Linked DNA regions of Homo sapiens: region 2 is linked to region 1. A link means that fine-mapping ties the variant in region 1 to the expression of a gene that starts in the linked region. Tissue or cell type: whole blood. Region 1 holds a variant in brackets; the other region holds the start of a gene. All regions are shown on one strand. Distances are from middle to middle.

Region 1 (8,110 bases):
ATGAGTGGATAAAGGAATTGTGTTATATATACACTATGGAATACTGCTCAGCTATAAGGAGGAATGAAATAATGGCATTCGCAGTGACCTGGATGGAATTGGAGATTATTATTCTAAGTGAAGTAACTCAGGAATGGAAAACCAAGCATCGTATGTTTTCACTTATAAGTTGGAGCTAAGCTACGAGGATACAAAGGCATAAGAATGATACAATAGACTCTGAGGACTTGGGGGAAAGGATGGGAGGTGCTGAGAGATAAAAGACTATGCTGTACATTGGGTATAGTGTACACTGCTCGGGTGATGGGTGCACCCAAATCACAGAAATCACCACTAAAGAACTTATTCATGTAACCAAACACCACCTGTTCCCCAAAAACCTATTGAAATAAAAAAAGTGCAAGAAATTTACATGTGCCAGTGCTTTTTTTCACTTAATCTCTCTCTCTCTCAGCTGTTTTATTTCTAGGTCCTTAATTCTAATAATATGTGACTTCCTAACATTTCATTTGACTAAAAATTACAAAACTGATCTGAAATTCACCATAGTGGGGTTTTACCATGTGGGTAAAGTGGACCCACAGACTTAAAAATTGTAGAATCTGAGAGTAAGAAGCAACTTATGCAATCCTCTAATTTAGTTCTTTCATTTTTCAGAGAAGGAAACTGAGGCTCAGCGAAGTTACGTGATTTGCCTATAGTTACAGAGCTAGTAAAAAGTTTAAACTGTTAGATGAACTCCTATTTGCTACTCTACCCAGTGACAGAGAATACTGAATGCATCTATTTACTCAGACATATGAACTATAGTGACTAAAAACAGTTGTGATGTGTGATGTACATTGTTGGGGGTCAGAATATAATACACCAAAATGAAGGTCTCAGAGCAGCATGGAAGCAAAAGTTTTTCTCTGACTTTCTCTGGTCCTCCTGTCTCTGGCCCCCTCATACTCCCTTGAGGCTAGCCATAGAAACTAGAATCCCTCCTCCAAGGTGGGTCATAGAAAACCAGAACCCTTTATCCCAAAGCCAGCCATAAAAACCTAAAAATATTACTTTAACTTTACCTCCACCTTTCTGTGTAAAAACTTGTCATAAAGAAATTATCTGACCTACCTTGTTTGATTGTAGATTGCAAGAGCCCCCATTCTAGAGAGGGTCCTGTCCCATACCCAGAAGGAAGGAATGCTGCACAGAGGCCAAGAAGAATCCAGACAGACAGGCCTTGCCGGGCTTCCCCGCTCAGTCTGTTTGTTTTAGACCATGCCTTCTTTGTCCAGTCATATTTCTACAAGCCTGACCATACTTTGCTGAACCAAAGCATGAACATGGACAGTTTGCTCTATATCTTTGGGTCTTCATCCTGAAGGATCCTGTGTCACATATAAAACTATGATCAAATAAATTTGTATGCCTTCCTCCTATTAATCTGCCTTTTGTCAGTTGATTTTAAGTGAACCTTTGGAAAGCTAAAGGGAAGCTTTCCCTAGGTCCCTGTAACATGTTATGTTTTAGAGGTTTCAAAATTATTCAAATGCTTTTGTATGTTTTGAATATTTTCATGGCATGACACACGTTCGTGTGTGTGTGAAACTTTGCATAATTTTAGTAGTTTTAACTTTTGCTGTCATAAAAATAATTTAGTTTTATATTTAGGAAAATCTTAAAACTCTATGGTTAGTTGGTAAATAGTGATAAAAGAAAAAATTTCAGCCAAATTAAATTTAAAGGAGTTTGCTTGAACAATGAATGATTCACGAATCAGGCAGCCCCCAGAATCGCAGCAGATTCACAGAGACTCCAGTGCAGCCATGTGGTGGGAGAAGATTTATAGAACAAAAAGAGGGAAATGACATACAAAAATCAGCAACGAGGTACAGCAACGGCTGGACTGGTTACAGGTTGGCATTTGCCTTATTTGAACACAGTTTGAACACTTAGCAGCCTATGAGTGGTTGAAGTATGGCTGCTGGGATTGGCCACAGCTATTATTACAGGTGCATACTCCTAAATTAGGTTTTCAATCTTGTCTGACTATTAAGCTACATTACAGTTCATCTACAAGGACTCAAATATAGAAGTATGGAGTCCTTCTCAGGCTATATTTAGTTTGCTTTAACAATAGATACTGGTAGAAAGATTAAAGAGAGTCATAAAGTATGTCCACTTCATGCAGCTATAAGGTTGGACTAATTAGGCAAAGTAGATAATACATCTGAAAAATTCTGGCAAAAAATCAAAACAAAACAAAACAATCAAATTCACCATTTATTTTCCAAACCAAAATTTCTTTGGTTTTTGCTTATTTGTGTTTATACTTCTGTAAAATTCCTACTCAGAGTACCTAGTTGATCATAATCTCAGAATAAGTTATTAAACTTTATAGTCTGTACTTCCTACTGAGGTATAATCATTATATATATATCTGAAATTTAATGGTGTCACTTTCTCAGCAGTGCTATTGAAGTGATTAAGCTATTATATATCTAATTATTTTGAAATTAAAAATAAAGATTTTGTACAGATTAGGGGGTCTCACTGTGTTGCCCAAGCTGATCTTGAACTCCTGGGCTCACATAAACCTCCCACCTTGGCCTCCCAAAATGCTGAGATTGCAGATGTGAGCCATCATGCTCAGCCTTTTTTTTTTTTTTTGACATTTTAAAATTAATACACATTGTACATATTTATGGGGGTAGATGTGATATTTTGTTATGTGCATAGACTGTGTAATGATCAAGTCAGGGTTTTTGGGGTGCTTGTCACCTCCAATGTTTATCATTTCCAAGAGCTAGGAACATTTTAAGTGCTCTCTTCTAGTTATTTTGAAATATACAATACATTGTTAACTATAGTCACACTACTCTGCTGTTGAACATTAGAACTTATTCTATCTAGCTGTATGTTTGTACTCTTTAACCAACCTGTCTTTGTTACCCCCTTCCCACCACAGACACATTCTTCCCAGCCTCTGGTAATCATCATTCTACTCTCTATCTCTATGTGATCAACTTTTTTAGCTCCCACATGTGTGTGAGAAAATGTGATGTGTGTCTTTCTGTGCCTGGATCATTTCACTTAACATAATGACCTCCAGTTCCACCCATGTTGCTGCAAGTGACATGATTTCATTCTTTTCATGGCTGAATAGTATTCCATTGTGGTGTATATATACTATATTTCCTATATCTATTTGTCCATTGATGGATACTTAGGTTGATTCCATATCTTTGCTATTGTAAACAGAGCTGTGATAAGCATGCGAGTGGAGGTATCCCTTTGGTATACTGATTTCTTTTCCTTTGGATAAATATCCAATGGTGGGGTTGCTGGATTATATAATAGTTCTGTTTTTTGTTTTTTTGAGTAATTGCCATACTGTTTTCCATAATGGCTATACTAATTTACTAATATTTAATGATATCTCACTGTGGTTTTGATTTGCATTTCCCTGATTATTAGGGATGTTGAGTATTTCTCATATACCTGTTGACCATTAAATTATGTTTTAATATGATATCTCTGTAAAGGTTAAGTACTTTTTAGGACATGGACCTGGAATGATTGCCAGAATTCATCGTTTGAATGGAATTAATTTTCAAATTTAGCAGGCATATACTTTCCATTTCTCCATCCTACTAAATAAATTAAAAGTTAATTTACCAGGGTGGTGGGCTTGACAGGAACAGGGAACAAGTTTTACTTTCATTTTCTGGGACCACTCCTGAGCTTGATATGCCTTTTAAACACTGACCCTCTGCCTGCCTATCTGCTTTTACTTATACTCACCTTGGAGCAGGTTCTCTTCTCTACTTCCTTTTCTGGGCAGTCTCCAGGGCGGCTTTAGCCTCTTCACTTGCTTCTGTTACAGCATGACTAACCCAGAGCTTGCCCAAAATGTGGTAGTCTGATGAATGGTCCTCCAAAGATGTCCATGGTCCTAATCACTGGGATCTGTGAGTATATTACTTTTTATGGTAAAAGGGATTAGCAGCTATGGTTAAGTTAAGGGTTTAGAGATGAGGAGATTATCCAGATAGGCTTAACGTCATCACAAGGTTCTTTATAAGCAGAAGTCAGGAGGATCA[A/G]AGTCAAAAAAAGAAGATGTGATGACAAAACCAGAGGTTGGAGGGATGTCCTTTGAAGATGGGAAAGGGGCCAGGAGCTACGGAATGTAGGCAGCTTCTACCAACTGGAAAAGCGAAGGAAACAGATTCTTCCCTGAGCCTCTGGGAGGCAGCAGTCCCGATAAGACCTGGATTTTAGACTTCTGACCTCCACAACTGTAGGAGAGTAATTTGTGTTATTTCAAGTTACTCTATTTATGGTAACTTGTTATAGCAGCAGTAGGGAACTCATCCAATTACCATATATATAAAAGCTCTTTCAAGATCATAATACCATGTTAGGTATTATTCGTAGTAGAATATCATAATACTTACAAGTCCTTTTCCTTAATATTGTATTTAAAAATTAAATGTATTTTTAAAAAATGTATTTCAAAGCTTGCTTAAAAATATTCTTGTAGACAAATATTGTACTATTTCTGTATTTTAAAATTAATTTGTTCAGTTTATACTTATTAAACATCTATTATGTGCAAAAGAGTATGTTGCAGAGGACACAGAAATGTTTAGGACATGGACTTTAATTCCAAGGATCTCATAAGGTTGACCTCTAGAAGCTATACTATTGCATAAATAACTGTTGCCTGGGTTGGCATACTGTATTAGCTAGCTACGGCTGCATAATAAAGTACCACAGACTGGGGGGCTCAGACAACAGTAATTTATTTTCCCACAATTCTGGAAGCTAGAAGTCCAAGATCAAGGTGTTGTGAAAGGAAAATAAATCTTAGGACCCCCCAAAATCACCAAGCCAAGGGAAAAGTCAAGCTGGGAACTACCTCAGGCAAACCTGCCTCCTATTTTATTCCTAGATAAGATAGCTAAAAAGGTAAAAGAGCTCCATACTTCCCTCACAATTTTCCTATAAGGAATTCTTCATGGGGCTCAAGATTTTTGCCCTAACGCAGTTCTGCTGAATTTCACCCTGGCAATGTAAACGGATAGCTTATCTCCACCGATGCAGGACATAAAGTCACCCCTCTGCTTACCTGAAACAAATGCACATCTATCTGATTTCTTCCTCTACCCTATTGTTTATGTAAAAATGCAGAATCACTGAGCCAGACTAAATTGTGTATTCAGTGGAAGGCTGACCAAGGACTCAAAAGAATGCAACTTCTTCTCTCTTATCTACCTATGACCTGGAAATCTCTGCTTCAAGTTGTTGCACCTTATGGGACCGAACCAATTTACATCTTACACATATTGATTGATGTCTCTTGTCTCTCTAAAATGTGTAAAAGCAAGCTGTACCCTGACCACCTTAGCACATTGTCAGGACCTCCTGAGGTTGTGTCACATGCGTGTCCTTAACCGTGACAAAATAAACTTGATAAATTGGTTGAGACCTGTCTCAGATATTTTGGGTTCACAGGATTGATTTCTTCTAAGCTCTGTCTCTCCTTTGCTTATAATGTGTTTCCTCCTTTGTTTTTACTTGGTCTTCCCTTTGTGCCTGTGTCCTACTTTTTTTTTTTTTTTGAGATGAAGTCTTGCTCTTTTCCCCCAGGCTGGAGTGCAATGGCGCAATCTCAGCTCACTGCAACCTTCACCTCCTGGGTTCAAGCGATTCTCCTGCCTCAGGCTCCTGAGTAGCTGGGATTACAACCATGTGCCACCATGCCCAGCTAATTTTTGTGTTTTTAGTAGAGATGGGGTTTCACCATGTTGGCCAGGCTGGTCTTGAACTCCTGACCTCAGGTGATCTGCCCGCCTCGGCCTCCCAAAGTGCTGGATTACAGGCTTGAGCCACTGTGCCCGGCCCTATTCTCCTCTTCTTATAAGGATACCAGCCATATTGGGTTACAACCCACCCTCATGACCTCATTCAAACTTAATTACCTCCATGAGGATCGCATCTCCAAATACAATCACATTCCAAGGTAAGGGGGTTGAGATTTCAATATAAAAATTGGGGGAGAACACAGTTCAGCCCATAACACATGCTAAGTGTGTGCTTTGGGAAAATTCAGAGAAGAGTGAGCTACTCTAGATATTGCTAATAGTAGAATTCACTCACAAATCAACTGATTAACAATGACATACTTGCCATGTGTGGTTACTGATAATCCAAGAATGAGCTATCCTTCCCAGAATGTACGGTGACAAATGGAGGAATCCTGATGAAGACATATAGAAACAGTAAATAAAATGATGGAACACATTTATGTCTTCATGAAAAGCACTTAGAACCAAGTACAGAAATTCTTTGGTGCAGTTGTTCAATTCCATTCTCAGGTGACAAACAAAGCCAACAGCTATGAGCCTTCTGATGATTCTGCCCTTTTGAAGTAACTAAGTTTGCACAATGACATTTACTATACTTTTAGGAACTGGCATGCCTAGGCTTAATGCATCTTTGTTGAGACAAAAAAAAAAGTTATGGTTTCTATAAGAGAATCTGTTCCAGGAGAAAGAGAATGACATATTGGATATGTTAGATAAGCAAAATATGCTAAGTTCCTTGGGGTCCTAATTAACATATTCCAGAGAAAAGTCCCACCCTAAAGTTTAGGTTCAATTATCAGAGGTCAAAATGTAATTCTGTTAGGAAAGCAGACAATGTTCACAGCAATCCTTTCATGTCCTTATGAACAAAAATGAAAATGTTCAAGTTGGTGGGAACTCATAGGAGTTAGTAATTTAATCAACATACTTTGGCCCATCATTGGGCCAAATTCTAGTGCTCTAATGCTGTAGATGGAAATATGTGGACAAAGGACTGAGCAAGATAAGATGGTCATTTAAGATAACTCATTCATTATAAGAAAATATAAAAGTAACAAAACACCATGTAAGAGAGTTTGAAGAAAAGATGAATATGATCTTTGATTTTCTAGGCACAGAAAAATAATGAAGAAATTCCAGTTTTAGGTTATTCTTTTTTTGTGCAAGTATCTGCTAATTACATATCTTATGCATTTCTCATTATCTATCATTTCAGACAAATTGTGCCTATAGACAATTTCAAAATAAATGTTTTCATACAAAGAAATAAAATGGGAGAATGGGAGCATGCCTAGTAATGACAGTTAAAATTCTGTCTTTTCCAAAATAGTACTGTTTCCATTGTAGAGTAACTGAATTCAATTATCTAAACTGTGTGTTTTTGTTAGCAACATGTGAATTTATTTAATGGTAGTGTGCAATTTTTAGTAGGAGTTACTGGAATTTTTCTAAGAACGTTGATTCACCTCAGATCACATTGTTTTTCAGATACAGTCTGTTGGATTTTAACAAAAACCCCATAGCTAATCACAGGTGAAAATAATGATACCATGTAACTATTTTCATTGATGGTGTTGGTTTTTGTCTTAGATCTAGCACAACAATGTGTTTCTTAGCAAACACTCCCTGTATTCAAGCAGACATTGTCACACACTTAGAGGAAGAGATGAAAAAGGCTGTATAGGACCATCCATAAAGTACAGAGGGGATACTTGCAGACCAGTAACCAACTTCTACGTTAGTTAAATTGAAAGCAATTTATATCATAACTTGAGTGAGTGAGGTTGGAAAAAATGTTCTTGACAATGAAGATGCTTAAACTTAAATAGGGGAGATTTTACAGAGAGAGGATGAGTAACCCAGAGTCTCAAGGCCCAGATATATTTAGCAGATAGGGCCAATTTTGTGATTCTGTGCCAGAGAGATGGGGAGGCTTTCTAAAGCGGATCTTAAGTGAAGTCAAGAGATGTAGAAAAAAGGGAAGAGAAACCTGAAGGGCAGTTTCTTATCACTTTAGTTGTATTAGTCCTTCTTCATGCTGCTGGTAAAGACATACCCGAGACTGGGCAATGTACAAAAGAAACAGGTTTAATGGACTCACAGTTCTACTTGGCTGGGGAGGCCTCACAAACATGGCAGGAGGTGAAAGACCTGTCTCACATGGCGGTACACAAGAAAAGAGAGCTTGTGCAGGGAAACTCCCCTTTATAAAACCATCATATCTCATAAGACGTAGTCACCATCATGAGAATAGC
Region 2 (8,110 bases), 430 kb before region 1:
AAGGCATGACTTTAGTCACCCCACTACAGTTGCTTCTCTTTGCCTCCAAGAAAGTCCAATCTGATGGGCAGATTGTGCTTGCAGATGACTGGATTAAACTGCAAATATCTCATGAAGCTGCTGCCTGCATCACCGCTCTCCAGGCAGCCACTGAGGCTCTGGTTGTTGAAGTAACCAAACAACCTGCTATCATCAGCCAGTTGGACCCCGTAAATGAAAGTATACTGAACATGATCCGTCAAATCTCTAGACCCTCAGCTGCTGATATCAACCTTATGATTGGCAGTACATGGTATGGAGATGGTCCAGGTCCTCCTAAGATGGCCCAATATGACAATGGAAGCGGATATAGAAGGGGAGGTTCTAGTTATGGCAGTGAAGGCTATGGCAGTGGCTATAGCAGTGGAGGCTATCGTAGCGGAGGCTATGGTGGCAGCTCCAGCTCCTGTCGGGCAGGATATGGTGCAGGTGTTGGTGGAGGCTATAGAGAAGTTTCCTGAGGTGGCTATAGAGGCAACTCTGGAGGAGATTACAGAGGGCCTAGTAGAGGCTACAGATGATCTGGGGGATTCCAGCGAGGAGGTGGTAGGGGGGCCTATGGAACTGGCTACTTTGGACAAGGAAGAGAAGGTGGCATCTGTTAAGGCTTGGTTATGTCAGTTCCTGTGTGTAGACAGTAAGAAAAAAAAAGCCATGCTATGTGTGACATTTTTTTCCAATGTTTATTTCCCACCAAAAAGTAAATGCATTTTAACCCATTCTGTGGTTCACTGTAGCTTAAGGAAACCAAGCATATAGATGCATTAGTGATTTTGTTTATATTATGTAAAATGTAACGATCTATCTTAGAAATACCACAGTTTGTATTTTTCTTTAAGGAGTAAAGATTTGTCTTTAAAAATAACTTGATATTTTCCTGGCTTTCATTTAATACAATGGAAAATAAAGTATTACACGAAAAAAAAATTTTTTCTTAGAGACAGTATCTCATTATGTTACCCAGGCTGAAGTGCAGTGGCTATTCACAGGCACGATTATAGCTCACTATAGCCTCAAAGTCCTGGGTTCAAGCCTCCTGAGTAGCTAGAACTTCAGGTACATGCCACCTTGCCTGGCTTCCTGCTTTCTTATTCACTAAGAAACTTTGTTCTCTAAAATCATAGATTAGAGACAACTTCGTGTTTGAAATTACATCAGTAACAATAAAATATCCCACCTTTGCTTGAAGGACCTCAGTCATTCCACACAGAGAATTGGCCTCAATTTACAACCCAGATGTCAAGCTTCTGATAAGGGGTTTCCAGACACAAAACTCCATCGCTATTTTAACTTCATAGTCTCCAAGGAAATAGGCCCTTCATCCACTTTGCAGTCTAGACCTAGAGCCTGTGTGTTGATGGCAGCAGCAGGCCGTCTGGAGCAGCCACTACCATCATTGACATACAGCCTTGTTTTGCTTTGAGTCTACCAAAATACTGCTTATTTAAATTTCATCTCAACTCCACACTTCCCCAGAATCCTATCACTCTATCTGGGGAGATGCCATGTGGTCCAGGCAGTCTTAGGCTGAATGGGCAAGGATCCAAGGGAAACCAATTAGATTGAAATTAGTTCTGTCTGTGGGCCCTCAAGATTTAAAAGCCATGGACAAGGGGGAAGCAACCAGTATCGACCAGCGATAATCTATGAGCACCTTCAGCTTGGGGTGTGGGGTCATAGACAAAAAGAATGGGGTTTAATCAGTGTTCCCATCCAAGGCAAAACCAGACCAGAAGAATGGGAGCTACCAGGAGGCTGAGTTAAGACCAATACTAGGGCCAGGCATGGTGACTACAGCCTGTAATCCCAGCACTTTTGGAGGCCGAGGCAGGTGGATTACTTGAGGTCAGGAGTTCGAGACCAGCCTGGCCAACATGGTGAAACCTCGTCTCTACCAAAAAAAAAAAAAAAAATTACAACTGGCACACACTTGTACCCAGCCACTAGGGAGGCTGAGGCAGGAGAATTGCTTGAACCCGGGAGGCGGAGGTTGCAGTGAGCCGAAATCACATCACTGCACTCCAGGCTGGGTGACAGAAGGAGACTCCGTCTCCAAAAAAATAAAAAATAAAAACCAATACTAGGAAGTGCTTTCTTACCATGAAAGCTCCCTGCACACAGAATGAAGAGACAGATGGCAGAAGCAAGACCAGAGGCCTCCACCACTGAACAAGGTCAACCTGAATTTGTTTTTGTAGCTCTGGGAAGTCCTGAACTGAATGGGAGGTTCTACTGTGGCCCTCTACTAACAGTAGATGGAACCTGGAACCATCTACTGTTAATTGTCCTTTTAGTAGCCAAGACATGAAGTACCTATCTCCCTTCTTTGTATTTGGTGAAAAGATTTGAACTCGAGCCATCTCTGCTAAAGGCATGACTTTAGTCACCCCACTGCAGTTGCTTCTCTTTGCCTCCAAGAAAGTCCAATCTGATGGGCAGATTGTGCTTGCAGATGACTGGATTAAACTGCAAATATCTCATGAAGCTGCTGCCTGCATCACCGCTCTCCAGGCAGCCACGGAGGCTCTGGTTGTTGAGGCCATCTACTGTGGCCCTCATACATCATACTGTGTATGGTTCCAGGATTTGTAAATGCTCTAATCAATGTTTTTTTTTTTTTTTAAAGCTGTTCCTGCTGATTGCTTTTTAAGCTAGGCTCAAGTGTGGGGCCACGGAATCCTTCAGGTGCCCTTCAAATCAGACATTACATTTCAGCTCTCAGGGCTAGAATGCTTCCCCCTCTTATCTTGGGCAGGTCTTTGAAGAAGCCAGTTTAGCCTTGGTAATTTTGAATTTGGCCATAGTATACGGAGGAGAGCTAGGTAGCTATCAAAACGCTTAGACAAACGTATGGTAAAATGCAGCCCAGCCTGAACCTCCGCAAAACCCCCAAACCTGGAGCAGCAAGTGGGCAAAGGAGTGTGTGTTTGGGGCAGGGTACTGAGTCCCATATGTAATCAAGAGACCTGGAGGGCCCAAGGAAGTCAGTGACACCCCCACAAGCTACATATCCTCCAATGGATTGTGGTGGTCATCTCCGGCTACCGAAGCCACCTTGCTTATTCCCATAGGCTTACAAACATTATGATGCTTCACACGAGTTGTGGGTGAAGTGAAGGAATTGGAAAGTCCCGGTCTAAGGCCCTGCAAAACTGCTGTCTGGTAAAAACAAGTGACTATGGCAAGGCCCTGAATGTACTACGTATAGACTTAAGTCAGTATTTGTGCCTAACAGCAAAGCATGCCACAAGAGGCTCCTCAAAAGCCGGGTAATTGATGCCATTGTTTTCTTGACCTAGTTGAAGAGTCAAAGAAGAGAAGGTGATGCAGAAACTTCTTTCCAGTGAAGTGACAGATCCAAGCAAGGAACACCTGCCTGTGAGGGGAGCGGTAGGGGAGGGGGTAGATTCGGCAGCACTCGGGTAGTGGCAGGGACCACATATTGTCGGTGTTAACCACTGTTATCACTGGCCCAGGTCGAGTGAGGACGAGTCATTTCCCCACTAAGCACTTGGGGAGTGGCAGGGACCACATATTGTCAGTGTTAACCACTGTTATGACTGGCCCAGGTCGGGTGACGACGAGCCATTTCCGCACTATTGTCCCTTCTTCCTCACTGCACCCCCAGCCCTGCACCCTCAGCTCCAAATACACATTCTCGTTCACTCAACGTTTGTTGACACCTAGCGTGGGCCCTGTGGGATGGGGTAAAAGTTCGGTGTTGGGAGGAGCCCCGGTGACAGATTTTTGGTTTTGGTGGTGGCTTTTGGGCAAGGACAGGTCAATTCATAAAAGATGACGCCCCAGGTCTGGATCGAATTCTCCTGGGAGCCAGACCAAAGCACCTTCCTGGACTGCAAAGTGTGGAAGCCGCCGCGGGCCGGGCGCGGGGAGGTGTCATGCGCCGGAACCTGCGCTTGGGGCCAAGCTCTGGAGCTGACGCGCAGGGGCAAGGCGCCCCGCGTCCCGGACTGGCGGCTCCGCGCATGCTCCTCCCACCGGCGTCGCAGGCCTCGAGAGGCTCCGGAAGTACTGGGTGCAGCCTGATGGCGCAGGAGGTAGACACGGCACAGGGCGCCGAGATGCGGCGGGGCGCGGGCGCGGCTCGGGGACGCGCTTCCTGGTGCTGGGCCCTGGCGCTGCTTTGGCTCGCGGTGGTTCCGGGCTGGTCCCGGGTCTCGGGCATCCCCTCCCGGCGCCACTGGCCGGTGCCCTACAAGTGAGTGCGGCGGCGCGCGCACTGTCGGGGTTGGGGTCGGCGTTGACGATGGGGGATGGGGTGCTGGGGCGGGGACCCCTGCTCACCGTGGTTTGTGTCGGGTCACGAGATGGTGCGGGGACAGCGCCGGGTGACGCTCGGAGCGCACTTGAGAGCAAAGTTGAGGACTGGGGAGTCGCAGCCGCTCGTTACGTGCAGCCCTGGGACCTTTCGTCCCCTCTGGTCACTTGCGGCAGACTCAGGACAGTCCTGAATCGTGGAAGAAGAAAAGGAGAGTAATGTTATTTAATGGAGGGACTTCTGGGTACAAGTAGCTGATTTCTTGAGTAGTTTAAAAACACTGTCTATCGCATTTATTTATATCATGCACTGTCGTTAGTTATTACCGCGGAACATTTGGTACAATTTACTGGGCGACCAACTCGCTCTGGTTTGAACCTGATCAGAACCTGATCCGAAGTCCTTATTGGGACTTCCCAGTTTTGCCCTCAAAAGTCGCGCATCCCGGGAATCCCCGTCTCCTGCAGTCCTGGTTAGACCGGGAAGATTGTCACCGCTTTTGTCCAGTCTTCAGCCTGGAGGTAGGACGCCGGTCCTAAGTCGGGGACAGAGCCCGCACACCTGGGAGGTCGATTCCAGCCTTTGACAGAGAAGACACAGCCTCCGGCGGTCAGAGATAGCTAAACACAGAGAAAGAAAACATGGTGTCAACATCAGGCAGGAGAAAGACCAGCAGTTTTTGAAAACAGCTATTTTTCTTTAAACCAAAAGCATCATTGGACATAATTTTAACTTACTAGCATAAGTAATCAACAGCTAAAACTGCACACAACAAACCTGAAAAAAACAGCTATTTTGTATGACAGTATGAGTGGGAAGGAGTTCTGCCTGCTGCGGGTCAAATCTGGCTCTGTCATCACCAGGGATCTTGGGAAAGTTACTCAGAATCTCTGTGCCCACATGCCCTGAGTCAAAAAATAGGAATAGTGGTAGCACGTACCTCATAGGTTTGCTGGAAGGATTAAATCTAGTAAAATGCCAGCTGTTGTCAAACCTAGATAGTGTATTCTGCTCACTGAAATGTTTACAACACTTTTTTGTTTTGTGTGATATACTACGTGGAAAGAGAAGTTTGTGGTTGAAGCTAGTTTTCTGGAAAATGTTAATAATAAAATGTTTGTAAGAAGTCAAAATTACTCAATAGAACAAGAATTGTAAATCCAAACGATTTGATTTAACATTAGGGCAAGGTGTTGACTATGGCTTTTTAGTGGATTTTTTTTTTAAGTCTCAGATATTAAGTACGTGCTCCCATCTAATTCCCTCAATTGAATATAATATTTAAGTTTATTAAGTTCACACTTAAATTACCTTTGAACTAAAATAGATTTTGCTGTGTCAGTGAAATCTCCATGTGATTATGTATTTGTTTAAACCAGGTAAGTGCCTATAAAACACTGTACCCAAGTAGCAGAAACTTTTGGGAGCGTCGTTAATAGTTTCGATTAGCATAAAGATTTTAACTTCTTAAGTTAAAATAGAAATTTTTGTTGATTTGTTAAGATTTGTTAGATCTGGCTACAACCTTGGGGATCTAGGATTCTTAGATAGAAGCTGTTGTCGCCACCACTTCTTTCTTTCCCAGTGCCAGATTATAGGTGACCAGTGTGTCTGTTGAGCTGAATTCAGCTGCAGTGCCCCTCGAGTCCTATTGCTGTGGCCTTCTCCGGTCTTCTTTTCTTGCCTGCATTGTTGAGGTCACCTTCTAACTGATCTCTCATGTTTTATTTGGCCTCTCTCCATACCCTCTTTTAATTCGTGAAATAAGGTTTACTTTATAGCAAATTCAGTCCTGTCAGATCTGCTACTTAACATCCTTTAAGTTTAGCCCTCCCCAATTATAAGGCAGGGAATTCCATGCACATTCTCCTAGTGACAAAATGACAGCCCCTGCCAGTCTCTTCCGTCTCCATTCCTGCGTCGAGGCCTGAAATCCAGTCTTCCGTACCTACCGGAGACCAAATGTGCCAGGCTTGTCTTACAATACTTAACATTTCCTCTGCCTTTCTGTCTTAACCTTCTAATCAACTACATTAAAAACCTAGGCCCGGCCTTCATCTCTTTCTTTGCCCTCCCCACCCCATTCATCCCATACCTGGTTAACAATGATTTGTCCTTCCTGTGTGCCCATAGGACTCATTCCTTTAGTCTAGCACATACCACACTCATTACTTGTTCAGTGTCTTTCCAGCTCCCACCCACAGTTCCATGAGAAAGGGAACAGTGTTTTAATTTTTGTTTCCCTCCTTCTTACTATAGTTCACTATATATGTAGTGGAGCCTCAATAAATATTGGTTGAATGAATGTTAATTCGTAAGTAAATATAAAATGTATTCTGTTACTCATAATTATCTGAATAATCTTAATGTATGGACTGTTTGTAAAATTGAACACATTGGAAAAATGTTCATTTATTCTGTAAACATTTGCAAATGTCTACTATGATCTGGAGCTATAAAAATTTTAAGACAAAATTCCTGTCTTCAAAATTTTCACAGTGGGATCAGGGAACAGGGAAGCCCGTATTTATCAGAGTGCTTTTAGTTTATCATTTGCTATTAAAAACATTATTGGAAGTTTGTTCACAAGATAACAAAATGTGTGTTTATATTTATTAACTATGGTCCGACCTTTGAATGGTCCCCTAAAAATGTTACTGGATTCTAAAAGACGTGAGAAGAATCAGATTCATTTTAGAATCTAAGTAGATGGTTTCTTTTTCTTTATTAGGCGCTTTGACTTCCGTCCAAAACCTGATCCTTATTGTCAAGCTAAGTATACTTTCTGTCCAACTGGCTCACCTATCCCAGTTATGGAGGGTGATGATGACATTGAAGTTTTTCGATTACAAGCCCCAGTATGGGAATTTAAATATGGAGACCTCCTGGGACACTTGGTAAGGATGCATCTTGGTCTTATAACTTTGGTTAATTCAATGATTTGGTTATTAAGTTGATTTTTAAGGAGTAATCACTATTTAGATGGCTGACTTTAGATCATGTTGGTGTTTGTCTTAGTACATTTAAAATGAGTAGTCAAAAATAGTTACTATCAGATTTTGTAATCTTGACAACAACAAATGTAATCACCATTATCCATTGTAATATTATGAATCTGAAACCAGCTCCTGTACCTAGCTCCTGGAAGGTGAGAAGAGGCCCAGAAGTGGCAGGGCAGGCAGGTAACACCTCTTGATTTCCATACTCTGTTGTAGTCACTTTTCCAGGTTAACCCATCACCATGTGAGGTCTGTAGAGCTGCTTCCAGAGACTGGCATGGGGGCTCCTCACACTTATTCTAAGCTCTAAGGAAATTATCAGCTTGTCCACATAACATGCAGGCCTCCTATTTGAGATGAGCCAAATAGGGGTGTAGTGGCCAAAGCTGGGGTGGATGAGGGCCTGGAGTTTGGGGCCACAGAGTGGATATGACAGTAGCAGCATGGAAGAACAGCTGAACAGTTGTTCTACTTGATATGCATTTGTGATGTGCCACATTTTCTCCTATCAGGTTACCTGGACCCATGGTTGTGTCACAGTTGCTTTTATACATGTACTGTCTTTACACAGAAAATTATGCATGATGCCATTGGATTCAGAAGTACATTAACTGGCAAGAACTACACAATGGAATGGTATGAACTTTTCCAACTTGGCAACTGTACATTTCCCCATCTCCGACCTGAAATGGATGCCCCTTTCTGGTGTAATCAAGGCGCTGCCTGCTTTTTTGAGGGAATTGATGATGTTCACTGGAAGGAAAATGGGACATTAGTTCAAGTAGCAACTATA

Evidence for each region. PIP is the estimated chance that this variant, and not a neighbour inherited with it, causes the effect.
Region 2: it holds the start of CLN5, and the variant in region 1 is fine-mapped to the expression of CLN5 in whole blood (TOPMed, PIP above 0.99).

What each region holds. Positions count from the first base shown.
Region 1 is chr13:77,421,679-77,429,788 of GRCh38, forward strand. It overlaps LOC124903185, which reads left to right. Exons shown (of 3, transcript XM_047430828.1): 3 at 1,132-1,424. The coding sequence ends at 1,260. LOC124903186 (a long non-coding RNA gene) reads left to right here and starts at 5,918. Exons shown (of 4, transcript XR_007063828.1): 1 at 5,918-6,010. RefSeq lists an enhancer at 7,925-8,110. The variant A/G (reference allele first, on the strand shown) is at 4,089.
Region 2 is chr13:76,988,014-76,996,123 of GRCh38, forward strand. It overlaps CLN5 (CLN5 lysosomal BMP synthase), which reads left to right and starts at 4,068. Exons shown (of 4, transcript NM_006493.4): 1 at 4,068-4,258; 2 at 7,050-7,215; 3 at 7,889-8,110. The coding sequence starts at 4,086. It also overlaps the pseudogene DHX9P1. RefSeq lists silencers at 3,402-3,491, 3,582-3,651, 4,112-4,351 and an enhancer at 4,373-5,572.